7 linked regions of the Homo sapiens genome follow. The protein of the gene in region 6 purifies or fractionates together with the protein of the main gene of each other region. This does not show direct contact. Each region holds a gene or a part of one and is shown on either strand. Other genes may lie near its edges.

Region 1 (4,235 bases), on a different chromosome or scaffold from region 6:
TGTCTGCCAGCTGAATACAGTCGTGCTAAGAACACTGCCTGGCCGGGCGCGGGGGCTCACGCCTGTAATCCCAGGACTTTGGGAGGCCGAGGTGGGCAGATCACTTGAGGTCAGGAGTTCAAAACCAGCCTGATCAACATGGTGAAACCCTGTCTCAACCAAAAATACAAAAATTAGCTGCATGTGGTGGAGTGCGCCTGTAATCCCAGTTACTCAGGAGGCTGAGGCAGGAGAATCGCTTGAACTTGGGAGATGGAGGTTGAAGTGAGCTGAGACTGTGCCACTGCACTCCAGCCTGGGCGACAGAGCCAGACTCCATCTCAAAAAAAAAAAAAAAAAAAAAAGAACACTGCCTGGAAAGCTTACTCTCCTCCCTTCCAAAATGTCAGGATCAGCTAAAAAAAAACTGTCCCTTATACAAAGCCCTTCAGGGCCTCTCCAGCCCCCATGTGCTCCCTGATCTCCATCCCAGAGCCCAGGCTGTCCTCCCTCCCACATGGCAGCGTGCCCAAGGCCTTGCATTCCAGGATGACTCCCCACATGTGGGAGGCCCTCACCAAAGCCCTTGGTCTGCTTCAAGGCAGCTCAAATGCACTGTCTCTCTTTTTTTTTTTTTTTTTTTTTTTGAGACAGGGTCTCACTCTGTCGCCCAGGCTGGAGTACAGTGATTTGATCTTGGCTCAGTGCTACCTCCACCTCCTGGGTTCAAGCGATCCTCCCGACTCAGCCTCCCAAGTACCTGGGACTACAGACCTGTGCCACCACACGTGGCTGATTTTTCTATTTTTAGTAGAGATGGGGTTTCACCACGTTGGCCAGGCTGGTCTCAAACTCCTGACTTCAAGTGATCCACCTGCCTTGGCCTCCCAAAGTGCTGGGATTACAGACATGAGCCACCTGGGCTTCCGGCCCAGGAAACAGTTTCTGATTGACCCCACCTGCCTCGGCTCACGCTGCCCACATTATTGTAATTAGCTCTTTCACCCGTGTTGCCTGGGAAGCATGCACGGGTCACTTTTCAGCAGAGTGATCAACTCATCCCAGTTTCCCAAGAACTTCCAGCTTAGCGCTGAAGCCCCTTGTCCTGGGCAGTCCAGGCCAGTTGGTCACCCTACATTTCAAGCATCTGTGTGTGTGTGTATAATTAAGATATTCATCCTTTCTCTTGTCTCTCCACGGACACTCCAAGCCTCTCCAAAGCTAGGCAACTGTCTCACGTCTCAGTTAACCTGGGTATCCCCTCTCTACTCTGTCCCAAAGTCTGATGTGGAGTCTCAAGTAGAACCTGTAGCCTTGGCTTGGGGCCCTTCCTGCCGAGGCAGACACTGAAAGCCTTGAGATCCTGGCCTTCACAGGGGAAGGGGGAGGGGCAGAGGGCAGGCTGAAAGAACAGAATGGCACGGAGGACTGGAGCTATGGGTGAGGAGGGCATGGCAAGGCAGGTAAAGTTACAGAAAGCGGAGGAGGTGGGTAGCCTCGAGATGTAGGATGTTTGGGATAGAGTGAAGATAGACGAGAGAGGAGGGAAGATGAAGGAGGACAAAGTCATTTTGCAGGTCTACATAAGCCCCCTGGAGTGCTTGGCCAGGGAGGCAAAGCTGACCACCTGCCACTGACCACTCACCACCAATGTGCGTTTTACACCCCTGTCACACTGAGGACGGGAGGGGAGGGGAGCCTCAGGTGTAGGTGAGGAAGCAAGTGGGAAGTGTCCAGGCCAGATGGCTGGGAGCCCCTTCCCCATAAGGCAACCAGGAGTGCTCTTAAAACCCAAAGCGGGTGAGGCTTGCCCTTAGGACTGGAGCAGCAGGTGAATGATGGACTATGAGTAAGTGGCTTACCTTTAGCAGGTGTTGGGCCGTGTAGAAGCCAGCTGGGCCACTGCCCACCACACAGATCTGGGGGGTCTTCTCCTGTGTGGAGAAATGGTGGCAGAAGCCTGGGGCCAGGCAGAGGAGAGGGAAAAGGTCAAAATTAACTTCTCTCCCCAGTCCCAAACCAACCTGAATATCCAACAGAAGCTGGAACTTCCCAAGCTTCACCCTCACCTGCATCCTCCTTCTCTTGTTCCTCAAGGCTTTGGCATTTGCAGGGTCTCTTACTTCATCTGAACCCCCAAAGGCTGTGGGTTCATCCAGAGCCCACATCTCACCCATGAACCTACTACACCACTGCCAATGGCCTGCCCAACAACACTTCATTCCCTATCCAATCGGCTAGAATCCCACATCCTTCCAACGGCCTCCATATCATCCCAATCTCGCCCCCGTGGGTCTCCCCACGGTGTCCCTCCTCTAACCCCTCTCTCTCTCCACAAAACGCTATATTGCCCATATAGACCCGTCTTATTCCTACAGATCCCTGTTTCGACTCAGACTTTCCTCTCGCCCCACAGACCTCCGTATCATCCTCCATTCACCCCGTCTCACACCTGTAGATCTCAAAGTCTCTCCTTTTCACCTTTGTTGACCTCCGTCTCTAACCCTAGAAGCCTCACATCTCACGCACAGATCTCCGCCCACCCCCGTACACCACCGGGATCTCGCCAGCAGGAAGACACCCCTTCAGTCTCACCCTTCTCCAGCCCTGCCCCAGCTCTGCTCCGACCCCTACTCAGCGCTCGCAGGCCTCCCCGCGCTCCCATCCAGCCCCAAAGGCGCCCTGCTCCTACTCGGGGTGCTCCCGGCGGGAGGCAGCCGGGTCCGAGGCCACGCCGACCAGCCCCACCAGCGCCAGCAGCGCGAAGCCATGGCTGGGAGCAGCAACCTGCAAGTGGATCTGTTCCTAGCTACTGCTCCGCAGGGCAAGCCCGCTCCTGCCCGGGCCCGCCCACAAGCGAGGCCCCGCCCCAAACCCCGCCCCCTGCGCTCCGGGAAAGCGGAGCCTTGCGGCTCCACCCCGACTCCCGAGAGAATCCCGCCCCCAAAAGAGAGACCCGCCCTTAACTACGCCCCACCGTCGAAGCCCCGCCCCTCGGAGCATCCGGGGTATACGCGATTTAATACATTTCTCCCCAGGCCTCACCTTCCCTCCAAATCCCGGAAGCCTAGGGTTGGAAGAGAGCGAATCCCCATCGCTGTTTCAGTCCCTCCCCAAGGAAACAGCCACTAAGAAAGGAGCTTATTTTACTTAGCCGCGCCCCTCTCGGGAGGCTCTCGTCGCTCACTGATGACGCAGACGCCCTTGCCATTTGATTGCGAATCCTCCCACGTGACTTCGTCCTAGCCAATCACGAGTCCGGCTCCAAGCGAGCCTTCCCGCCGTTGGGAAATAACCAGAGTGCGGAAGTCTGGGGCGAGGGAGCTCCTTCCCGGAGCCCAGCAGCCTCCTTCTTCGACCCCGGGTGTTGTGCCGATGTAACCCCTCAAATCCCCGTCTTTGCCGGGCCAGGGAGAATATTAAACCCTGGAAAGCTCGTCCCACCTCACCTCCTTTCCCATTACATAGGTGAAGAAAAGCGGGGCGGGGCAGTGGCTTACGTATGGTACTAAGGACAGAGCGTCCGACCCCCGTGCAGCCGAGCCGGGACCAGAGTTGAGGTACTCCCCTCGGGTTCAGAATTTAAGGGGGCTCCAAAACACTCAGTAATCAAGATAAATATAATACTGCAACGTTTTAAAAGGTCAAAAGTAATGCAAAAAGTCTATGATCAAAATGTTTTTAAAAATAAGGACAGGATCCGTAGTCACAGCTGACCCAATAAGCCTAACCCCTCTTCCTTTTCCCCATGGGCCCTCTTGTCAAATATTACTTCCTTGGAGAAGCCTTTTCTCTGACCCGTCCCCTCCCAAGTTCCAAGGAGTTAAAGGCCTCTCATTCCACAGCATCTGACCTTATCCCATCATGACTTACTACACTGGTTGTCGTTTTTAATGAGATTTTAAATTCAATAATAACATACAGAAAAGTGCACAAATCATGAGTGTACAACTTGACAATATATCACAAGGTGTAACCATATAACCACCACCCAGATCAAGAAATAAAACATGGCCAGTATCCCAGGAGTCCTCTGTGCCCTTACTGGTCACTTCCCCTCCCTCCCACTGGTAAGTAAATGCTGTCTGCTTTCTAATAGGTCACTGTGTTTTATGCCTGTCCCACTAGACCAGGAGTAGGCAAACTATAGCTTGCAGGCCAAATACTGTCCACCAGCATGTTTTGGATGACCAACAAGAATGGCTTTTACTGTTTTTGTTTTTTTGGAGGTTTTGGGGTTTTTGTTTTTGGTTTTG
Region 2 (3,500 bases), on a different chromosome or scaffold from region 6:
TGAGATGGAATCTCGCTCTGTTGCCCAGGCTGGAGTGCAGTGGTGAGATCTCAGCAAACTGCAAACTTCACCTCCTAGGTTCAAACGATTCTCCTGCCTCAGCCTCCCGAGTACCTGGGATTATAGGCGTGCACTACCATGCCCGGCTAATTTTTTGTATTATTATTATTTTTTTTTTTTTTTTTTGAGACGGAGTCTCGCTTTGTTGCCAGGCTGGAGTGCAGTGGTGCAATCTCAGCTCACTGCAACCTCCGCCTCCCAGGTTCAAGCGATTCTCCTGCCTCAGCCTCCTGAGTAGCTGGGACTACAGGTGCCTGCCACCACGCCCGGCTAATTTTTGTATTTTTACTAGAGACGGGTTTTACCATATCAGCCAGGCTGGTCTCAAACTCCTGACCTTGTGATCCACCCATCTCGACCTCCCAAAGTGCTGGGATTACAGGCGTGAGCCACTGCGCCCGGCCTCTTTTTAAAATTTAGAACAGTAGCCAGGCGTGGTGACTCACACCTGTAATCCCAGCACTTTGGGAGGCCGAGGTGGGCAGAATACCTGAGGTCAGGAGTTCCAGACCAGACTGGCCAACAGGGTGAAACCCAATTTCTACTAAAAATACAAAACATTAGCTGGGTGTGGTGGTGTGCACCTGTAATCTCAGCTACTCCGAAGGCTGAGGCAGGAGAATTGCTTGAACCTGGGAGGTGGAGGTTGCAGTAAGCCAAGATCGCGCCACTGCACTCCAGCCTGGGCGACAGAGCGAGACATCGTTTCAAAAAAAAAAAAAGAAAAGAAAAGGAAAGGCTGGGCGCGGTGGCTCATGCCTGTAATCCCAGCACTTTGGGAGGCCAAGGAGGGCGGATCATGAGGTCAGGAGATCCAGACCATCTTGGCTAACATGGTGAAACCCCGTCTCCCATCTCTACTAAAAATACAAAAAAAAAAAAGCCGGGCGTGGTGGCGGGCGCCTGTAGTCCCAGCTACTAGGGAGGCTGAGGCAGGAGAATGGCGTGAACCCGGGAGGTGGTGCTTGCAGCGAGCTGAGATCGTGCCACTGCACTCCAGCCTGGGCGACAGAGCGAGACTCCGTCTCAAAAAAAAAAAAAAAAAAAGAAAAGAAAAGGAAAAGGTCAAAGACTGACGAGATGGAGAGAAACTAGAGTCTTTGGAAGTGACGTTACATTTGAGCTAGGCAAGCAGGGGAGTAGAGGATGCTCCTGGAGCACAGATCCCGTGGCCAAAGCCTCAGCCCAAGCCTAGTGTGTGCAGTGGAACTGAGAAGGGGCCAGCGTGGCCTAGGGCGGGGAGAGGACTCAGGGAAAGCAAATGCGGAGGGAGGCAGCGGCAGCCACTTCCGGTTCTCACCATAGGTTGTCTTCTCTACCAGCCTCCCGTCCTCACGGAAGTCATCTGTAGCTTTGCCCAGGAGGCCACGCACTGTGTAATCCTTCAAGGACAGGGAGGTAAAGATCCGTCAGTGACCCCATTCTAAGCCCTAGTAGCCCCTGCCCCAGAAGCTGGGGGTGGGGGGTCCTCAGGTCTCCCTCAGGAAGCTCATGTGCCCAGCCCCTGCCCAGCTGCTCCACAGCCCCAGGAGGAAGGGCACCAGCTCTGTCATGTGGCCTTCAGCAGCTCTTGCTCTCTTTGTATTCAAGCTCTCCTGTCACCTGGGGACAGTAACAGGGCCAGTCTCACAGTACTGCTGCCTGGATTCAGCAGGACATGGTACCTGGCTCCCAGTCAGCAGGCTTCCTACAAGACTGCTGGCTGGTTTCCATGACAACCAGCACTGGCAGCCTCCAAAGGTACTGACCGCTGACAGCCACCCTGTGGCCACCCCAGGCCTCCATGTTTCTCCTCTCCAACCTAACTCGGCAATTTATCACCCCGAGCCCCTTCTAGCATGCCCTGTAGGCTTCTCTCCACGCCTCTAAATAGAATGAGATTCCATGGCCCAGATCAGGCCCTTGCTCATCCCTGCTTGTAAAAACTCCCCCTCCTCTGAATCTGTGCAGCTAACCCCATCTGCCACAGATAAGTAATGATTGGCTGGATACAGTGACTCACACGTATAATCCCAGCACTTTGGGAGACAGAGGCGGGTGGATCGTCGAGTAGCTGGGAGGACAGGCATGCGCCACCAGCCTGGCTAATTTTTTTGTATTTTTAGTAGAGACAGGTTTTCACCATGTTGTCCAGGCTGGTCTTGAACTCCTGGCCTCAAGTGACCCACCCACCTCAGCCTCCCAAAGTGGCAGGAGCCACTGAGCCCGGCCACAATTTTTAAAATTTTTATAATTTAAAAAAATTTTGTAAATAGAGATGGAGTCTTGCTATGTTGCCCAGACTGGTCTCAAATTCCTGGGCTCAAGCAATCCTCCTGCCTCAGCCTCCCAAAGTACTGGGATTACAGGTATGAGTCACCACACCTGGCCCTCATTCCCATTTTACAGATGAGGAAACTGAGGCACACAGATATTAATTAGGTAATCTACCCAAGGACACACAGCTGTCAGAGTGGTAGAAGCTGGGGTTCAAACTGAAGCCATTTGGCTCCAGAATTTGTGCCCTTAACCACTAAAAACATGGGCCCCATAACGTGGCACCTGCGTACATACTTTGTGGTATCAGACTCCATAGCCCCGACCCCACCTCTGGATGGTAAGCTCCCTGTGGGTAGGATGCTGACATCTACCTCTCAGTCTTGGGACAGAATAGGGAATGGCATCATGATCAAGCTCTGGTGTTGGAGAGACCTAGGTTCAAATCCCAGCTCTTAAAGCCCTAACAACTACATGACCTAGGTAAGTAACATCTCCTCTCTGAGCCTCAGTTCTCTCATCTGTGAAATGTGGCTAACAACAGATTCCACTTTACAGGGAGGCTGTGAGGCTTCCCTAAAGGAATCCACGTACAGTGCTCAGCACAGAGTAGTCGGCATACACTAACACTGGTAGTTATTATTGTTATTATTATTACAGCCCCTGCACAGCACACGATCATCAAAAAAATGCTTGCTTATGGCTTGGGTGTTCCCCCACGGAATCCTCTAAGCTTCAGAATCCTGCTGGTGACCCCCAGGAAAGGACCAAGGGAGAAGCAGGCTGTCCCCAGACCCTCGTACCTTGGTAAGATGAGCATTGTACATATCGGTGAGGAGCCTGCATCCATGTCCCACGCCGAGCACTGAAAAGCAGCCAGCGTCATCTCACACCTGGGACCCCCTTCCCATTCCCCTAAGTATCCCCACCCCTACCCCCACCATCAGAATACTCCCTTTTCTGATGCTGCCAAAGGCAACAAGAAGGCAAAAAGATCTTCTACAGGGGGCAGGTGCACCCCTCTGGGTATATATCACATGCAGATTGCTGGGCCTTACCCATATGCACTGAATCTGACTCATGGTTGGAGGGGGCCTAGGATCCCTGCCAAGCTCTCCACAGGATTCTGACACCTGAGAGGAAGAGATCCCTGGCCTAGTCACACAAACCTGCACTCAAATCAG
Region 3 (3,500 bases), on a different chromosome or scaffold from region 6:
GGGCACCATAGTGAGATCCTGTCTCTATAAAAAATTTAAAAATTAGCCAAGTGTGGTGGCTTGCGCCTATAGTACTAGCTACTTGGGAGGCTGAGGCAGGAAGATCACTTGAGCCCAGGAGGTCAAGGTTGCAGTGAGCTACAAATGCATTGCTGCACTCCAACCTGGATGACAGAACTAGACTCTGTATCAACAACAGCAAAACTACTGAAGGAAATTTTAAGTGCTACTCCTGAGAAGAGAAAAATAGTAGGCTGGGTGTGGTGGCTCCCATCTGTAATCCTAGAACTTTGGGAGACCAAGACGAGAGGATCAACTGAGGTCAGGAGTTCGAGACCAGCCTGGCCAACAATGTGAAACTCCATCTCTACTAAAAATACAAGAATTACCTGGGCGTGGTGGCGGGCGACTGTAATCCCAGCCACTGGGGAGGTTGAGGCAGGAGAATCGCTTGAACCTGGGAGATGGAGGCTGCAGTGAGCTGAGATTGTGCCACTGCACTCCAGCCTGGGCGACAGAGCAAGACTCTGTCTCCAAAAAAAAAAAAAAAAAAAAAAATAGAGTAAGAAAGCAAAACAGCCTTATTGCCAACATGGAAAAAATTACATGAATAGAAGATCAAATCAGCCACAACATTCCCTTAAGCCACAGCCAATCTAGAGCAAGACTAACTCCTTCAATTCTATGAAGGCTGAAAGAATTGAGGAAGCTGCAGGAAAAAAGTCTGAAGCTAGCAGAGGTTGGTTCATGAGGTTTAAGGAAACAAGCTGTCTCTATAACACACAAGTACAACTTGAAGCAGCAAGTGTGGATGTAGAAACTGCAGCAACTTATCAAGAAGATCCTAAGATGAAGGTGGCTACACTAAACAGATTTGCAAAGCAGACAAAACAGCCTTCTATTGGAAGAAGATGCCATCTAAGACTTTCATAGCTACAGGTGAGGAGGCAATGCCTGGCTTCAAAGCTTCAAAGGACAGGCTGACTTCATTAGGCACTAATGCTGTTGGTGACTAAGTTGAAGCCAATGCTCATTTACCATTCTGAGAATCCTAGAACCCTTAAGAATGATGGTAAACTACTCTGCCCGTGCTCTACAAATCGAACAACAAAGCCTAGATTACAGCACTCCTGTTTACAGCATCGTTTATGGAATATTTTTTATTTGTTTATTTTTACTTTTTGAGATGGAGTCTCACTCTGTCGCCCAGGCTGGAAGTACAGTGGCACTATCTCAGCTCACTACAACCTCCGCCTCCCAGGTTCAAGCAGTTCTCCTGCCTCAACCCTCCGAGCAGCTGGGATCACAGGCGCCTGCCATCATGTCCGGCTAATTTTTGTGTTTTTAGTAGAGATGGGGTTTCACCGTGTTGGCCAGGGTGGTCTTGAACTCCTGATCTCAGGCGATCCGCCCGTGTTGGCCTCCCACAGTGCTGGTATTATAGGCGCAATCCACTGTGCCCAAACGGTTTACCAAATATTTTAAGCCCAATGTTGCGACCAAATGCTGAGAAAAAAAGATTCCTTTCAAAATACTACTGTTCATCGACAATGTATCTGGTCACCCAAGAGCTCAGATGCACAGGTACAAGAAGATGAATATTGTTTTCATGCCTGCTAACACAATGTCCATTCTGCAACCACATACATCAAGCAGGAATTTCAACGTTTAAGTCTTATTATTTAAGAAATATATTTTCTTTTTTTATTCCCCTAAGAAATACATTTTGTAAAAAAAAAAAAAAAAAAAAAAAAAAAAGAAAAAGAAAAAGAAAGAAAGAAAGAAAGAAAAAGAAATATATTTTGTAAGGCAATAGCCACAGAGTGATTTTTCTGATGGATCTGGGCAAGGTAAACTGAAAAGCTTCTGGAAAGGATCTACCATTCTAGATGTCATCGGGAACACTCATGATTCATGAGAGGAGGTCAAAATACCAACATTAACAGTTTAGAAGAAGTTGATTACAACACTCAAGTATGACTTTGAGGGGCTCAAGACTTGAGTGGAGGAAGTAACTGCAGATGCGGTAGAAATAGAAAGAGAACTAGAGGCTGGGTGCAGTGGCTCATGCCTGTAATCCCAGTACCCTGGGAGGCCGAGGCGGGCGGATCACCTGAGGTCAGGAGTTCGAGACCAGCCTGGCCAACATGGTGAAACCTCATCTTTATTAAAAATTCAAAAAAATTAACTGGGCATGGTGGTGGGTGCCTGTAATCCCAGCTACTCAGGAGGCTGAGGCAGGAGAATCGCTTGAACTAAGGAGGCAGAGGTTGCAGTGAGCCAAGATCGTGCCATTGCACTTCAGTCTGGGTGACAGGAGTGAAACTCCATCTCGAAAAAAAAGAAAGAGCAAGAGAACTAGAATTAGAAGTGGAGCCTGAAGATGTGATTGAATTGCTGCAATCTCATGATCAAACTTGAACAGATGAGAAGTTGTTTCTTATGGATGAGCAAAGGAAGTGGTTTCTTGAGATGGAATCTACTCCTGGTGAAGACACTGTGGACACTGTTGAAATGACAACAAAGGATTTAGATTACATAAACCTAGCTGATAAAGCAGCAGCACGGTTTGAGAGGATTTACTCCTACTCTGAAAGAAGTTCTACTGTGGATAAAATGCTATCAGACAGCATCACATGCTACTGAGAAATCTTTTGTGAAAGGAGGAGTCAATCAACGTGGCGAACTTCATGTTGTCTTATTTTAAGAAATTGCCACCGCTACCCCAACCTTCAGTAACCGCCACTCTGATCAGTCCACAGCCATCAACAGAGGCAAGACCCTCCACCAGCAAAAAGATTATGACTCACTGCAGGCTCAGATGATTATTAGAATTTTTTAGTAATAAAGCATTTTAAAATTAAGGTATCTACATCTTAACAAACCACTCTAAAATGCACTGGCTTAAAACCATAATTTATTACTTTTTTTTTTTTTTGAGACAGTGTCACCCAGGCTGGAGCGCAGTGGCATGATCTCGGCTCACTGCAATCTCCACCTCCCAGGTACAAGCAATTCTCCTGTCTCAGCCTCCTGAGTAGCTGGGACTCCAGGCACACACCAGCACACCTGGCTAATTTTTGTATTTTTAGTAGAGATGGGGTTTCATCATATTGGTCAGGCCGGTCTCGAACTCCTGAGCTCAAGTGATCCACCCGCCTTGGTCTCCCAAAGTGCTGGGATTACAGGCGTGAGCCACCGCGCCCAGCCCCAGCCAGTACTCTTGACTGCTTAATCAGAGCTGGAGAGTCTCAGATGGCTTCACTCGTACCTGGAGCCTTAGTGCTGGTTGTTGTCTGCTTGCTCTTTCACCGCCCAGTCCTTGGTGTTCAGTAGTCTAGCGGGGGCTTCTACCATGACAGAGGGAGTGTTCCAAGTGGGCAAAGGCAAAAGCTGCAAGGTCTTCTGAGGCCGACTCTGGACCTTGCACAATATTACTTCCACCACATGCTACCGATCAAACTAAGCCGCAAGTCCAACCCAGCTGCAAGGAATAGGGA
Region 4 (3,500 bases), on a different chromosome or scaffold from region 6:
AGGGTTCTAGGGGCTGAAATTCAAGCAGGCAGTCAGGCCTGCTTTGATGCCTAGATTAGGAATAATTGGTGAAGAGTGCTGAATTACAGTGTAAGTTTAGACCTATAACTTAATTTCCACCTGTACAGTGGTATTAAACATGAGTTTTTATCTTAAAAAGACCACGCAGGTCATAATATGTGGATACTGGGGGGCTGAGTCACGAGAAGGGATTAAGATGGTAACATCAACACCCACATTAGTCTGGGCACATTATTCAAAGCAGGGAAGTGTCTTTCCTTTTGGTAGGGGTGACCATGTGGATGAAGTACTACCATTCAGAGTACAGGACAGAGAGGTTGCTGAGTATAGATGCCAAATGTTGGACCCTATATCTGAGGACATCTGAGTCCCGAATGATGTTCAAAAAGAGGCTTCGACAAATTCTAGTTAGTAGTAACTGGTCAAAAAAGGACTCTGCCACGTACCTGCCCAGATCTCTGAGGTTACATGAGGGGCCAGTGGAGCAGCCATTACCATCAGGGCACACAAAGCATCCTCAAACTCGGGGCTGTGGAGAATGACGCTCTGAGAGGCTTGCTAAGGAAGAGGAAAAAAAAGTAAGAAGACTGAGGTGTAAAAATAAGCACGGGTAAGAAAGACCATTAATGTATCTGAAGTCCAGAGACACAAGCTGGTAGGAAGAAACCCCCTTTGCCATCCATTTCTGCTTGGGACAATGAACTTCCCCTACTTAATGATAGCACTGAGATAAACTACAGCAAGCCAGGTGTGGTAGCTGACACTTATACTCCCACTACTTTGGGAGGCCAAGAATTTGAGACCAGCCTGGGCACTATAGTGAGACCTCATCTCTATGAAAAATTAAAAAATAAAAAAAAATTAGCCAGGCACAGTTGCACACACCTATAGTCCCAGTTACTTAGGAGGCTGAAGTGGGAGGATCACTTAAGACCAGGAGGTCAAGGCTGCAGTGAGCTATGACTGCACCACTGCACTGAAGCTTGGGCAACAGTGAGACCCTATCTTTAAAAAAAAAAAAAAGCTCCAGCAGCAGCAACAACAAATACATGATGTTAACTTATTTAGTCCTCACCACTCTTTGAGGGTGGTATTCTTACCCCATTGGACAGATGAAGCAGCTAAGGATCAGCAAGGGAGGGCAATCTGCCCCCAGGCACACTGTAGCCAAACTCTTACCCACTCTGCTAGGTTTCCTCTGTGCTGCAGGTCCACAGAGAAATGCACTGAGACCTGCTCAAAGGTGTTAAACTGTGAAACACCTAGGGCAGGGGGGCCTCTATACCCTACTTAGGGACCCCTATTCTCTGAAATACCTTTGGTCAATTCCGGCAAACATAGTTGTGTTTAGCTCTGTGTGTTATTATTAAGGACTTCCCAAATTCCGGAATGGAAAGACAGAAATTCATTACAGTTTCATTTCAGTGTCTTGCTTTATTTTTTCTGATTAAAAAACTAACACACACTCAGCACAGAATATACAGGAAATGAAAAACTACTCATAATTATACAACCTAGAAAAAAAGGTATATTTTATCCTTGTCTCCAAAAATGCAAAAATGTGTATATAAATGCTTATTACACATGTAACATTTTCAGGATTGGTATTCTTGCCATATGAACACTTCCTTTTTTTTAATTTTAAAAATTAATTTTTTTTTTAAATAGAGATGGGGTATCTCACTATATTGCTCAGGCTGGTCTCGAAATCCTGGGCTCAAGCCATCTGCCTGCCCTGGCCTCCCAAAATGCTAGGATTACATGTGTGAACCACTGCACCCAGCTCATATGAACACTTTTGTATCTTTTTTTTTTGAGACAGAGTCTCTCTCTGTTGCCCAGGCTGGAGTGCAGTGGTGTGATCTCAGCTCACTGCAACCTCTGCCTACAGGTTTAAGCAATCCTCCTGCCTCAGCCTCCTGAGTGCCTGGGACTACAGGTGCACAGGTGTGCACCACCACACCCTGGCTGATTTTTTGTATTTTTAGTAGAGACAGGGTTTCACCATGTTGAGCAGGTTGGTGTTGAACTCCTGACCTCAAGCGATCTATCTGCCTTGACCTCCCGCAGTGCTGGGATTACAGGCGTGAGCCACTGTGCCTGGCCTTGTGTCATGTGTTTTTACTTAACATTATATCATAAACAGTTTCTGATATTAAGTATTCTTCAAGACATGAGGTTAATGGTGGTGGCACATTCCTTTCTTATTGATATGACATAAGTCATTTCACAATTCCCCCATCAGAGGACACTGGGGTTCCGAGTCTCTGTGATTATAAATTATCTGCAGTGAACACTCCTGGATCAGAGGATATAACACAATCAACCTGATAGCCGAAGTGCTTCCTGGCAAGGTTACACCAACCACACCTATCACTGGCGTGTAAAAGTCTATTCTGCCATCTTTGCAATAGCATGGGGAATAATTATGCCTTTATTTTTATTTTTTTGAGAGAGAGTCTCGCTTTGTCACCCAGGCTAGAGTACAGTGGCACCAAACAGCTCACTGCAACCTCAAATTCCTGGGCTCAAGGGATCCTCCCGCCTCAGCCTCCTGAGTAGCTAGAACTACAGGTGCATGCCACCACACTTGGCTAATTTTTAAATTTTTTACAGATGAAGTCTTGTTATGTTGCCCAGGCTGGTCTCAAACTCCTGAGCTCAATCGATCCTGCTGCCTCGGCCTCCCAAAGTGCTGGAATTACAGGCATGAGCCACTGTGCCTGGCCCTGAATAGTTACGTTAAAGTATTCTCAGCAAATTTGACAGGTATTTAAAAAAAAACAAAAACAAAAACAAAAGCATCTTGTTTTAAATTTGCCTTTCATGATAATTAGAGAGGCAGACTTTTTTTTCTCCACAAATGTATTGGCTATTTCTATAACATTTTCTATGAGTTATTATCTTTTCATATGCTTTGACCATTTTTGGTTAGGTATTTTCATATTAATATGTAAGAGTGCTTTACAAGGATATTAACCTTCTGTCTGACATGTTATAAATTTTTTTAACATACTGAAAATGTCAAGTTTTATGTAGTCAAATTTGAAATTTCTTCCATTGTTCTTTTTTATCTTTATTTTACTTTTTAAAAATTACCCTTTTAATTTTATTTTTAGAGACAGAGTCTCCTGCTCTGTTGCCCAGGATGGGTTCAAGCGATCCTCTCGCCTCAGCTTCCCGAGTAGCTACAGCTACAGCTGTATGCCACCATGCCAGGCTAATTATTTTATTTTTTTACTTTGTTTTTGAGGCGGAGTCTTGCTTTGTCGCCCAGGCTGAAGTGCAGTGGCGTGATCTTGGCTCACTGCATGCTCCGCCACCTGGGTTCACACCATTCTCCTGCCTCAGCCTCCTGAGTAGCTGGGACTACTGGTGCCTGCCACCACGCCTGGCTAATTTTTTGTATTTTTTAGTAGAGATGGGGTTTCACTGTGTTAGCCAGGATGGTCTTGATCTCCTGACCTCGTGATCCGCCT
Region 5 (3,500 bases), on a different chromosome or scaffold from region 6:
AGGTGCTCGCCACCACGCCTGGCTAATTTTTGTATTTTTAGTAGAGACAGGGTTTTGCCATGTTGGCCAGGCTGGTCTTGAACTCCTGACCTCAGATGATCCACTGCCTCAGCCTCCCAAAGTACTGGGATTACAGGCGTGAGCCACCGTGCCTGGCACAAGCAGTTTTCTCCCCTTCCTTCCTTCCTTCCTTCCTTCCTTCCTTCCTTCCTTCCTTCCTCTCTCTCTCTCTTTCCTTTCTTTCTTCCTTCATTCCTTCCTTCCTTCCTTCCTTCCTTTCTTTCTGACAGTCTCGCACTATTGCCCAGGCTGGAGTGCAGTGGCGCGATCTCGACTCACCACAACCTCTGCCTCCTGGGTTCAAGCAATTCTCCTGCCTCAGCCTCTCGAGTAGCTGGGAGTACAGGTGCGCGCCACCATGCCTGGCTAATTTTTGTATTTTTGGGAGAGATGGAGTTTCACTATGTTGGCCAGGCTGGTCTCGAACTCCTGACCTCGTGACCCACCCGCCTCTGCCTCCCAAAGTGCAGGGATTATGGGGGTGAGCCACCGTGCCCAGCTATGAGTGGTTTTGTTTCTATTTATTTATTATTATTCTATGAGACAGAGTCTCACTCTGTCGCCCACGCTGGAGTACAGTGGTGCAATCTTGGCTTACTGCAACCTCCGTCTCCTGGGTTCAAGCAATTCTTCTGCCTCAGCTTCCGGAGTAGCTGGAACGTGTGAGCCACCACCCCTGGCTAATTTTTGTATTTTTAGTAGAGACAGGCTGGTCTCGAACTCCTGACTTCCGGTGATCTGCCCACCTCAGCCTCCCAAATTGTTGGTATTACAGGCGTGAGCCACCGCACCTGGCCTCTATTTATTTATTTATTTTGAGATGGGGTCTTGATATGAATTCCTAGACTCATGCTTCTCATGCTTGCTACCACCCAGTCCTGCCTCCTGCACAGCAGTTTCCACTAAAGTCACCCCTTTACGAGAGGCATCTTTTTTTTTTTTTTGAGATGGTGTCTCACTCTGTCGCCCAGGCTGGAGTGCAATGGCATGATCTCAGCTCACTGCAAGCTCCACCTCCTGGGTTCAAGTGATTCTCCTGCTTCAGCCTCCCGAGTAGCTGGGACTACAGGCACCCGCCACCATTCCCGGCTAATTTTTTGTATCTTTAGTAGAGACGGGGTTTCACCATGTTAGCCAGGATGGTCTCGATCTCCTGACTTCGTGATCCACCCGCCTCGGCCTCCCAAAGTGTTGGGATTACAGGCATGAGCCACTGTACCTGGCCTACTAGAGGCATCTTAAAACACATCTCCTGTGTCTCCATTCCAAAGCGCATCTTTGTCTACACTCCTGGGGTCCTCCCACGTCAGCCTCCCAAAGTGCTGGGATTACAGTCATGAGCCACTGTGCCCGGCCCCACCAAATTGTTTTCTAACCTGCTTTTTTCTTGAGGAATCTTCTGCAGCACATGACTCACATGTAGAGCCCCTTGTTTCTTGAGGCCTTCATACCCGTCAGCTCATCTAAAAGTCACTCCTGAGGAGTAAGGGCAAGGGGCATTGGGAGAGGTCAGGCAGCCCTGGGAAGCCTCCCAGCGTGTGTCCCAGGAGGCCTGCTGCCTGCAGACACTGCTCCCAGACGCAGCGGCCTCGGCCATCAGAGCGTGTCCCACGATGAGGTGGCAACTTCCCTGAAGGGCTTGCTCTCACCCAGGGGTGTGGTTCTCCGTGTGCACACAGATAGATAGTTCTACGTTTGCCATATACCATTTATATGCCTCACACAGATTAACCCACTTTCATTTCAAAAAGACCTCCTGTCATCGTGCCCATTGTACAGATGAGGACACTGAGACACGGAATCCTAGTGACCTGTGCAAGGTCACACAGCTGGGAAGGGTGAGGGAAGCGTCTGTGAACCCAGCAGGCCCAGCCCCTGAGTCTAGGCTCCGCTCGGCAGCTGTCATGGGAGCAGAGTCCGAGAAGCACTGCAGGCACCTGCTCTAGGGGGAGAGAGGTGGAGGTGGCAGGTAGAGAGAGGACGACCCCTGGGAGCTGAGACGATGCCAGCCTCACACGGACAGGCTGGGTGACCTCAGGCAAGTCGCTTCCCATTTGGGACCCCAAGGACCCTTCTGCAGACCCAGCTGGGGGTCCCCGATGAGACTGGCTCTCAGAGTCCCTGTGAGTCCCGTCAGCTGAGGCCAGTAATGTCCTGGCACCATCACTGGACATGGTTTGCTCTCCCATGGAGGGGCAGGTGTAGCAGCCAAAAGCGATCCTGAGCTCTGGGCCTCTGAACCCTGCTCTGCCAGCTACTGTGGGTGTCTCTACCCGCTCTGTGTCTCAGTTCCCTTTCCTGAAAAGAGGGGATAGTAAAAACTAACCCTCAAGGTGTTTATTACCAATGCCCTTCATGGAGGAATCCGCTGCTCCAGGCCCTTGCCAGCAGCTGCACAGCTGGGCCTGGGGACCTGGGTGTGGGTCTGTTGAACCTTGGCCCACCCTGGGGCTGTGGTCGGCCTGGACGTGTAGGTGTGGAGGTGCATATTTATTATGGCAATTTTCTGACAGGTAACAGAGTGTGGGGCTCTCTTCTGAATGGGGCTCGTGGAGGCCGTGGGTCAAAAGCCCTAATTTTGTAGTGAGGGCTAAAAGGCTTCACAAGGGAAAGGGCCTGGCTGGGGCTATGGGCCGGTGCCGACCCCCCCTCTCCCACTTTGTTTGCAGTTCTGGGAAGTCATCAGTGATGAGCATGGCATCGACCCCAGCGGCAACTACGTGGGCGACTCGGACTTGCAGCTGGAGCGGATCAGCGTCTACTACAACGAGGCCTCTTGTGAGTGCCTGCCCCAGCCTCCCTATCCCAGCCCTGGACTGACCAGGTCTCAGCGTCTGACTGACCAGGTCTCAGCACCTGGACTCACCAGCTCTCAGCATCTCTGTCCTCCCATGGGTTAGGTTGGCTGAGATGCCAGCAGGCGTAACTGGATGTCAGGCATCCAGACGCACAGAACAGACAATAAATCACAGTCACAAAAGTGAGAGCCAAACATATTAGTGCCATGAGGGCCTGTGCGTGTCCAGGGGCACAGACAGGGATGGGGCAGGCCAGAGACTTTGGAGGCCATAAGAGGGCCTAGAGAAGGGGTCACCTGGAGGGCTTAGTCAGGGGCTCTTTAGCAACTGGTGTGAAGTGATTTCCATATCAAAGTGGTGATACACCCACCTGCCCACATGGACATGTGATTTAAAATTTTATTTAATTTAATAGAGACAGTCTCGATATGTTGCCCAGGCTGGTCTCGAACTCCTGGACTCAAGCGATCCACCTGCCTTGGCCTCCCAAAGTGTTGGGAGTGCAGACACGAGCCCCTGCATCTGGTGGACGTCTGACTGAATCCTGCCTGTCCTGCTCCGTCCTGTCCTGCTCCGTCCTTAAACACAGTGAGGCTTAAGGGTGAAGAAAGTTGCTGAAGCTTGCCTTTGGTCCAGGACTCT
Region 6 (4,172 bases):
CCCCACCTGGGGGTCTCCAGGAAGTCGAGGCTGGCCTCTGAGGTTCCACAGAAAAGCAAGATGGGGGAGTGAAGGGGCCGGCTGGAACTTGATGCTCCAACCTCCAGAGTTTCGAGGCACAGCAAGACAGGTTCAGTAATGTCCTTCCCTCCAGAGAGCGGGCCTTAATTTATGGACTGGTACTCTGAGTACTTCTTGTGGTGCAGCAGCAGAACCAAGCCGCCCCCTAGCAGCATGAGCCCTGGGGCACCCAGGGCCACTGCCATGATGCCCAGGACTAGTGGGGACAAGCCGTCCACTGGAGGGAAGCCCACACCCAGGAGCATCGACCTAGAGCAAGCAGAGAGAGAGAGGTAAGCGGGCTTAGGAGGAAAGGCTGGGAGGCTCAGCCTTTGTCCACTTCAACTCCCCAAGTCCCCGGCCCAAACCCTGGCTCTCACCAGCTGAGGTAGTGTTGGTCCCAATAGCCAGGGCCTGTGGAAGCCCCGAACGTCAGATTGAAGGCACAGAAGTTATTCTGGGACCCAAAGAAGGCTCGGACAATGGGTGACTGGGGAAGAGAGTATGCTAAGGCAGGATGAAGAGGGGAAGCTTGGCAGGGCAGGGCTGATTCTCGGCCCCCCGGCTTCTGGGAGTAAGCCACTGGTCGCCACTGTGCAAAGCCTGATGGGAGGGAGCCCCACAGTAGCTGGTCCAACTGGGAAGAAAGGCAAACAAGGGAGGGTAAAGAGGACCAACCTGTGCCCGACCCTCTTTTCCTTGCCACTCCCAGCCTTATTCTGTGACTAGCAGCAGGAGTCCTGAGTCCTAGGCAGGGCCTCAATCCCTCCTCTGTAAAAATGGGGAGTTCGACTGGGTGAGGACTGAGTTGTTTTCCAAACCTCCAAGTCTGGACTCAGCCCTCCTCTTGGCCCCTAGCCCCCTTGCAGATCTCCATCTGCCAGAGTGTAAGTCATATTGCACTTTCTGTCTGTCTCCACTGAGGGCAGAGACTGGGTCAGATTCATTAGCACAGTGCCTAGCTCTTAAACGACCCAAAGAAAGTGTTGCTAAATGGCAAATGGTTGAATGAGTTTTAGGTCCCAATGGTGTCCCACCTACATTCCTCACCCATCTGCCTCTCTCCAGGAAGCCTGACCTGGAAGACGGCCGGTGCATATTCATCGTCGATGGAGTGCTGCTCCTGCATTGAGGGGCAGTCAGGGCCCTGGCCCAATGTGGCTACCTCCAGCCCAAACAGGGAACGGTTTCCCCGGGGAGAGGCTCCAATCAGGGCCACCTCTAGCTGACAGGTGTCTGCTGTGTGCAGGAGGCGAGGGGGTTGGGCTGGTCGGCTGGACCTGGAAAAGGCCTGGACCTAGGAAGGAAGAAGCATGGGAGGTGTGGGAAATAGCTGGATGCCTGTGCTTAAGGGCCACCTCCATCATTAAATCCCACCCTCACAAATCAGCCTTTTTGAGCTCTTTCCGATTTCTCACGCCTTACCCTGAAGGCCAGGCTGCCATTGGCAAAAGTCCTGGTAGGGTCGTTCATGGGGTGGCCTTGAAATGTGGCACTCAGGGTGGCAGGATCCAATGAATCAGTGATGTTGTTCCAAGAGAAATCGGCCAAGGAGTATGGAGGATATGGTCTTCCCAAAGGCTTTGCTGCCGTATCGGACACGTTGGTGCTGTCAAACTCAAGCAGCTGGAGGGTGGGGGTAGGGTGGAACTGGGCTTGCCTCAGTTTTTCTCCCGAGACCACACCTCCCACTCACCCCCTACCAAGGCTTTCATATCTGAGTCTATTTCACCCACCCCCAGTCTTTAGTTCCACCCTCTAATTGGGATGAACTCTCTCCTCTGCACTCTTCTCCTTGGTTCTCTCCCAACCTCCTCACCCTGGTAAAAACAAGGGCAGAAGAAAACTGAATGCTGTCCTTAGGGAGCACCATCAGGCCCCCATCGGGCTCAGGGGATAGCAGGAGGCTCCAGTTGACGCTCAGGGTGCTGTGGGGGGTGTTGGTGGCCACCATTACCACTGCCAGAGGCCCCAGGCTGCTCCACACATAGTGCAGTGTGGAATTGGTGCCCACTGCCCGTATATGAAGCAGGTTCTGCAGGGGGCCCAGCCAGTTAGGGATGACCTCCAGAGACACCTGGAACATGGAGTAGTGGAGGGTTGAGGGAACAGGACCAAGGAGAGACACAGGCAAAAGAGAAGCTTGAGGGGAGGGGGGCTTGGAAAGTGCTGGACAAAGGATGGGATTTTGGGGACTAGACAAGAGGAATGTGTGCGGGAGCTGAGGGAACCCTGGGGTAAGGGGCAGTGGGGACAGGATGAAAAGGGGTAGGGTAGAGGGTACAGCCAGGACTCCCCTGACCCTGGTGGGCGGGTCAGGGCACAGGGCTGCGAAGAAGAAAACATTCAACACTTGCCTGGACCTGGGTCACCCAGGGCTGAGTCGGGGTCCAGACATCACCCTCACATTTGCCCTACTCCACAATCCCGTCCCATGACCCATGACCATCTCCCACACCCTCCAGGTTGAAGAACCCTCCTCTTGGCAGCCACCCTCCACCCCTAGCCCCTGGATGCCCGGTTCCAGCCACCCTGCAAGGGTAGCGTTTCCTGAAACTTCTATCGCTGTAGCCCCAGGGCCCTCACCTGGCGGGTCTTCTCCCCCAGCAGGCCAAATGGGGCTGCAAACAGAAGTAGAGTCCAAAGGAGCAGGGGGCTGGGGGCACAGTGCCCCCAACCCCAGGTGCACTCCACAGAGCCGCGCATACGGCCGCAATTCAGCCGACGGAAGAGGTGCCAGAGGGTCACATGACTCGCGTTCAGCTGATCCCTTTCAAGGGCGGAGCCGCCAAACTATTTGCTTTTTAAAAAAATTTCCTTTCGTCAGCACCATTTAATGTATTAAAGAACAGCTTTGTATTCTATCTTAAAACAGGAAACGTCAGTCTCTTACAAGTAATACAATTTAATATGGTCACAAGATTTTAAGTGAAAAAAAAAACATTCATGCTACAAGTTTTCAGTTTTCCTTGGACAATGCCAAAAACACAGTATTCAAACGGCATGTTTTAAGAGGAACGTGAAATCTCATTTTGACACAAAGACAGGTTAAAGAAAATAAACCCAACAGGGAACTACTCCAGTACATTGCCTTAAGTTCCCAACCCTGTCCCATTGTGGAACTCATACACCTTCTTTCTACTCCAGCACATGAAACTCTGTGGTTCTTCTTCCCTGTGGAACAATGTGGTTCTTCTTCCCTGCCTAACATTTCAACAAAAATTGTAAATATTTAGAGATGTGTCACTAAATGACAACAACATACTTCCAAAAAAGCCAACTTATTTGTTAAATGTTGAAAGAAAAGGCCGGGCACGGTGGCTCACACCTGTAATCCCAGCACTTTGGGAGGCTGAGGCAGGTGGATCACAAGGTCAGGAGTTCAAGACCAGCCTGGCCAAGATGGTGAAAGCCCGTCTCTACTAAAAATACAAAAAATTCACTGGGCACGGTGGCAGGGCCCTGTAATCCCGGTGGCAGGCGCCTGTAACCCCAGCTACTCGGGAGGCTGAGGCAGGAGAATCACTTGAATCCGGGTAGTAGAGGTTGCAGTGAGCCAAGATTGTGCCACTGCACTCCAGCCTGGGCGACAAGAGCGAGACTCCGTCTCAAAAAAAAAAAAAAAAAAAAAAAAAAAAAAATATATATATATATATATATATATATATAGAGAGAGAGAGAGAGAGAGAGAGAGAGAGAGAGAAAGAAGGGGCTAGGCCGGGCACAGTGGCTTACGCCTGTAATCCCAACACTCTGAGAGGCCTTGGTGAGTGGATCACTTAAGGTCAGGAGTTAGAGACCAGCCTGACCAACATGGTGAAACCCCGTCTCTACTAAAAATACAAAAATTAGCCAGGTATGGTGGCAGGCGCCTGTAATCCTAGCTATTTGGGAGGCTGAGGCAGGAGAATCGCTTGAACCTAAGAGGCAGAGGTTGCAGTGAGCCGAGATTGCGACATTGCACTCCAGCCTGAGCAACAAGGGGCAAAACTCTATCTCAAAAAAAAAGAAAGAAAGAACGGGCTAAAATTTGGTGAAATTTAAAAGGGTTGTAGAAAACTTTGGAGTGTTTGTTTTCTTCACTTCACTCTGATTTTATTTTATTTATTTAT
Region 7 (3,500 bases), on a different chromosome or scaffold from region 6:
GACCTGGGAGACCAGGGGGCCAGTCCAAGAGAGATGAAATGCGTTTCTAGGATGGCACAGGGTGCAGTGGACCTGGGAAGCAGTCAGTCCACAGGGCAGTAGAGGACTCCAAAAGCGATGTTTCCAAGAAAAACAGAACAAGGCTGGGTGCAGTAGCTCATGCCTGTAATTCCAGCACTTTGGGAGGCCAAGGCAGGCGGATCACAAGGTAGGAGATCAAGACCATCATGGCCAACATGGTGAAACCCCGCCTCTACTAAAAATACAAAAATTAGCTGGGTGTGGTGGTGCATGCCTGTAATCCCAGCTACTCAGGAGCTGAGGCATGAGAATCGCTTGAACCTGGGAGGCAAAGGTTGCAGTGAGCCGAGATTGTGCCACTGTACTCCAGCCTGGCAACACAGCAAAATTCCATCTCAAAAAAACAAAACTAAACTAAAACAAAAACAGAACAAAACAATACACACTAGAACAACAGAAAATAACTCCTTAGGCAGTGTGTAGCAAACCAAACAGAAAGGTACACTACAGAGCATTTAGGGTACAGAATGACAGAGACAGTGATTCAAAGACAAACAAAACAAAAGATTTAACACAATTATTAACCCAATCCCAAGGGAAACAAGAAGTTACACAAGGAATGGAATGCACATCATACTTCATACTTACTTAAGAGAAAAAATATATATAAAGTTGTAATCATGAAAATGGTGAATTGGATTAAACCACAAAGGGTGATAAAATCATATGGATGGGCAGGGCAGAAGGAGGGGATAGGGAGACTAAGAGCTAAAATATAAAATAATGTACCACAAATAGGTAGCTAAAAAATATAAAAATGTATAAAATATAATAGTAATGGCCGGGTGCGGTGGCTCATGCCTGTAATCCCAGCACTTTCAGAGGCCAAGGCGGGCGGATCACCTGAGGTCGGGAGTTCGAGACCAGCCTGACCAACATGGAGAAACCCTGTTTCTACTAAAAATACAAAATTAGCCAGGCGTGGTGGCACATGCCTGTAATCCCAGCTACTCAGGAGGCTGAGGCAGGAGGATCGCTTGAACCGGGAGGCGGAGGTTGCAGTGAGCCGAGATCGCGCCATTGCACTCCAGCCTGGGCAACAAGAGTAAAACTCCGTCTCAAACAAAAAATAATAATAATAAAAATAAATAAATAAAATATAATAGTAAATGTATATTATGTAGATAGGTGGAAACAGCATAAACAACTGAAAAAATTGAAAGTAGTTGCCTCTGGAGAATGAAGGAAAGAGATAAATATCACTTTGTTACTTTGTCATAAGCTTCTCAGTAACAAATGAAGTGCCTGTATCAGGGCCTATAATCTCAGGTACGCAGGAGGCTGAGACGGGAGGATCACTTGAGCCCAGGAGTTCAAGACCAGCCTGGGTAAAATAGCAAGACCCCATCTCAAAACCATTTTTTTAAAACAAATACAAAAAAATTTTAAAGTTTCTCCTTATAGAGAGTAGCAGGAGAATCAGGGTGAGGCTGCACACTGGCAGGGCTCCACAGACCCAGGCTGAAGAACCTGCCTCACTGCAGACCCTGGGTATCCAAACTTTCTTTTCAGAATCAAAGTGGCACAACTGTACCTGTCAGCATTCCTCCTAATTCCTGCAAAAGCCTAAACTGCTGCAGGCTGCAGGTGGACTCCAAGAACAAAGTACAGAGGCAGTAAATGGGAAAAGGACAGAGATCTGAGGAGGATCTGCAAAAGTAGCATATGACAAAGTCCATTCAAAGCCATTCCCACAGCTCCCTACATGAGCTAAAAGGATGACCAGGTCCTGAGAGGTCAAGCCCATTCCTCCTGAACAACTTGTCTAGTCTTCCTTCCACTAGAATGGCCAACCCAGTTCCATGTTTCACAACCTACAGACCCCTGCCTGGCAGCTCCAGAAAGCAGAAAGCTCAAATCTGGCACAGGAAAAACCAGGACATGCACAAATATGGACTAAGGAAGCCTATTCAACTCTTCAAAGACTTGGGTTTATACAAGACATTCTCACCACAACTCCAGGACCCAGCACATTGCCCACCCCTAGGCAGGTGTTCAATAACGTCTAATGACCAAGAGGCAGGTAAGCCTACCTTCCTTCTGTAAGGGCAGAGGACTCTAAGTGGACCTGAAGCCTAGAACCTCCATCAGACACTGCTCAGACTCTACCCTGGGCACTAGAGATGTAAGGAGGAGGAGCTTAAAGAAGAAAGAACAAGGCCAGGTGCCATGGCTCACGCCTGTAATTCCAGCACTTTGGGAGGCCAAGGAGGGCAGATCACGAAGTCAGGAGTTCAAGACCGGCCTGGCCAATATGGTGAAACCCCATCTCTACTAAAAATACAAAAATTAGTCGGGCATGGTGGCAGACGCTTGTAGTCCCAGCTACTCGGGAGGCTGAGGCAGGGAGAATTGCTTGAACCCGGGAGGCGGAGGTTGCAGTGGGCTGAGATCGTGCCACTGCACTCCAACCTGGGTGACAGAATGAGACTCCATAAAAAAAAAGAAGAAGAAGAAAGGGCAGGCCAGGCGTGGTGGCTCATATCTGTAATTCCAGCGCTTTGGGAGGCTGAGGCAGGCAGATCACCTGAGCTCAGGAGATTAAAACCAGCTGGCCAACATGGCAAAACCCATCTGTACTAAAATTATAAAAATGAGCTGGGCATTGTGGCAGGTGCCTGTAATCCCAGCTACTTGGGAGGCTGAGGCAGGAGAATCACTTGAACCCAGGAGGTGGAGGTTGCAGTGAGCCAAGATCGGACCACTGCACTCCAGTCTGAGTGGCAGAACAAGACTCCATCTCGAAAAAAAAAAAAAAAAAAAAAAGAAGGGTAGCACCACCTCACTCAAGGACGGTTGGGCAGGCACTGCCTCAAGATCTTCCTAAGCCAGATGCAGTGGCTCATGCCTGTAATCCCAGCACTTTGGGAGGCTGAGGCGGGCAGATCACAAAGTCAGGAGTTTGAGACCAGCTTGGCCAACATGGTAAAACCCCATTTCTACTAAAAACACAAAAATTAGCCGGGCATGGTGGCAGGTGCCTGCAATCCCAGCTACTCGGGAGGCTGAGGCAGGAGAATCACTTGAACCCGGGAGGCAGAGTTTGCAGTGACCGAGATTGCGCCACTGCACTCCAGCCTGGGCAACTGAACAAGACTCTTGTCTCAAAATAAATAAATAAATAAATAAATAAATAAATAAATAAATAAATAGTTTAAAAAGATCTTCCTTCTGCACCCAAGTCCTACAGGAATCCTGGGAACAACTTCGCCAAGGCTGAGTCCATCACTTACTATCACTCCCTTTTTATCTGGATGACTACTACTTAGTTTCTGTATATTTAATCAAGGCTATAAATTTAGAGACTATAATAGAGTGTTTATATGAAAGTTATATTTTAGGGCCAGGCGTGGTGGCTCATGCCTGTAATCCCAGCACTTCGGGAGGCTGAGGCGGGTGGATCATGAGGTCAGGAGATC

The links.
Region 1: the proteins of GLMP (region 6) and FDXR purify together in Homo sapiens (affinity purification with mass spectrometry; 2 studies listed by BioGRID and IntAct, with this or other methods). This does not show direct contact.
Region 2: the proteins of GLMP (region 6) and TRUB2 purify together in Homo sapiens (affinity purification with mass spectrometry; 2 studies listed by BioGRID and IntAct, with this or other methods). This does not show direct contact.
Region 3: the proteins of GLMP (region 6) and PARL purify together in Homo sapiens (affinity purification with mass spectrometry; 2 studies listed by BioGRID and IntAct, with this or other methods). This does not show direct contact.
Region 4: the proteins of GLMP (region 6) and LARS2 purify together in Homo sapiens (affinity purification with mass spectrometry; 2 studies listed by BioGRID and IntAct, with this or other methods). This does not show direct contact.
Region 5: the proteins of GLMP (region 6) and TUBB3 purify together in Homo sapiens (affinity purification with mass spectrometry; 2 studies listed by BioGRID and IntAct, with this or other methods). This does not show direct contact.
Region 7: the proteins of GLMP (region 6) and SLC25A20 purify together in Homo sapiens (affinity purification with mass spectrometry; 2 studies listed by BioGRID and IntAct, with this or other methods). This does not show direct contact.

Annotation. Positions count from the first base shown.
Region 1 is NC_000017.11:74,870,195-74,874,429, forward strand, and holds the start of FDXR (NADPH:adrenodoxin oxidoreductase, mitochondrial isoform 1 precursor), read right to left. Parts: upstream 2,801-4,235; 5' UTR 2,751-2,800; coding exon 2,672-2,750; exon of another isoform or gene 2,575-2,671; intron 2,123-2,574; coding exon of another isoform or gene 2,004-2,122; intron 1,940-2,003; coding exon 1,842-1,939; intron 1-1,841. UniProt on the Homo sapiens protein: Serves as the first electron transfer protein in all the mitochondrial P450 systems including cholesterol side chain cleavage in all steroidogenic tissues, steroid 11-beta hydroxylation in the adrenal cortex, 25-OH-vitamin D3-24 hydroxylation in the kidney, and sterol C-27 hydroxylation in the liver.
Region 2 is NC_000009.12:128,312,448-128,315,947, forward strand, and holds part of TRUB2 (pseudouridylate synthase TRUB2, mitochondrial), read right to left. Parts: exon of another isoform or gene 3,379-3,500; coding exon of another isoform or gene 3,375-3,378; exon of another isoform or gene 3,182-3,374; coding exon 3,120-3,181; exon of another isoform or gene 2,977-3,119; intron 1,801-2,976; exon of another isoform or gene 1,651-1,800; intron 1,459-1,650; exon of another isoform or gene 1,443-1,458; coding exon 1,361-1,442; exon of another isoform or gene 1,104-1,360; intron 1-1,103. UniProt on the Homo sapiens protein: Minor enzyme contributing to the isomerization of uridine to pseudouridine (pseudouridylation) of specific mitochondrial mRNAs (mt-mRNAs) such as COXI and COXIII mt-mRNAs.
Region 3 is NC_000003.12:183,874,881-183,878,380, forward strand, and holds part of PARL (presenilin-associated rhomboid-like protein, mitochondrial isoform 1 precursor), read right to left. Parts: intron 3,408-3,500; exon of another isoform or gene 3,272-3,407; intron 1-3,271. UniProt on the Homo sapiens protein: Required for the control of apoptosis during postnatal growth. Essential for proteolytic processing of an antiapoptotic form of OPA1 which prevents the release of mitochondrial cytochrome c in response to intrinsic apoptotic signals.
Region 4 is NC_000003.12:45,521,076-45,524,575, reverse strand, and holds part of LARS2 (leucine--tRNA ligase, mitochondrial), read right to left. Parts: intron 580-3,500; coding exon 468-579; intron 1-467.
Region 5 is NC_000016.10:89,929,842-89,933,341, forward strand, and holds part of TUBB3 (tubulin beta-3 chain), read left to right. Parts: intron 1-2,729; coding exon 2,730-2,838; intron 2,839-3,500. UniProt on the Homo sapiens protein: Tubulin is the major constituent of microtubules, protein filaments consisting of alpha- and beta-tubulin heterodimers. Microtubules grow by the addition of GTP-tubulin dimers to the microtubule end, where a stabilizing cap forms.
Region 6 is NC_000001.11:156,292,880-156,297,051, forward strand, and holds the start of GLMP (glycosylated lysosomal membrane protein isoform 1 precursor), read right to left. Parts: upstream 2,801-4,172; 5' UTR 2,767-2,800; coding exon 2,647-2,766; exon of another isoform or gene 2,418-2,646; intron 2,138-2,417; coding exon 1,880-2,137; exon of another isoform or gene 1,797-1,879; intron 1,687-1,796; coding exon 1,486-1,686; intron 1,358-1,485; coding exon 1,139-1,357; intron 832-1,138; exon of another isoform or gene 739-831; intron 698-738; coding exon 441-697; intron 331-440; coding exon 165-330; coding exon of another isoform or gene 133-164; 3' UTR 1-132. UniProt on the Homo sapiens protein: Required to protect lysosomal transporter MFSD1 from lysosomal proteolysis and for MFSD1 lysosomal localization.
Region 7 is NC_000003.12:48,885,383-48,888,882, forward strand, and holds part of SLC25A20 (mitochondrial carnitine/acylcarnitine carrier protein), read right to left. Parts: intron 1-3,500. UniProt on the Homo sapiens protein: Mediates the electroneutral exchange of acylcarnitines (O-acyl-(R)-carnitine or L-acylcarnitine) of different acyl chain lengths (ranging from O-acetyl-(R)-carnitine to long-chain O-acyl-(R)-carnitines) with free carnitine ((R)-carnitine or L-carnitine) across the mitochondrial inner membrane, via a ping-pong mechanism.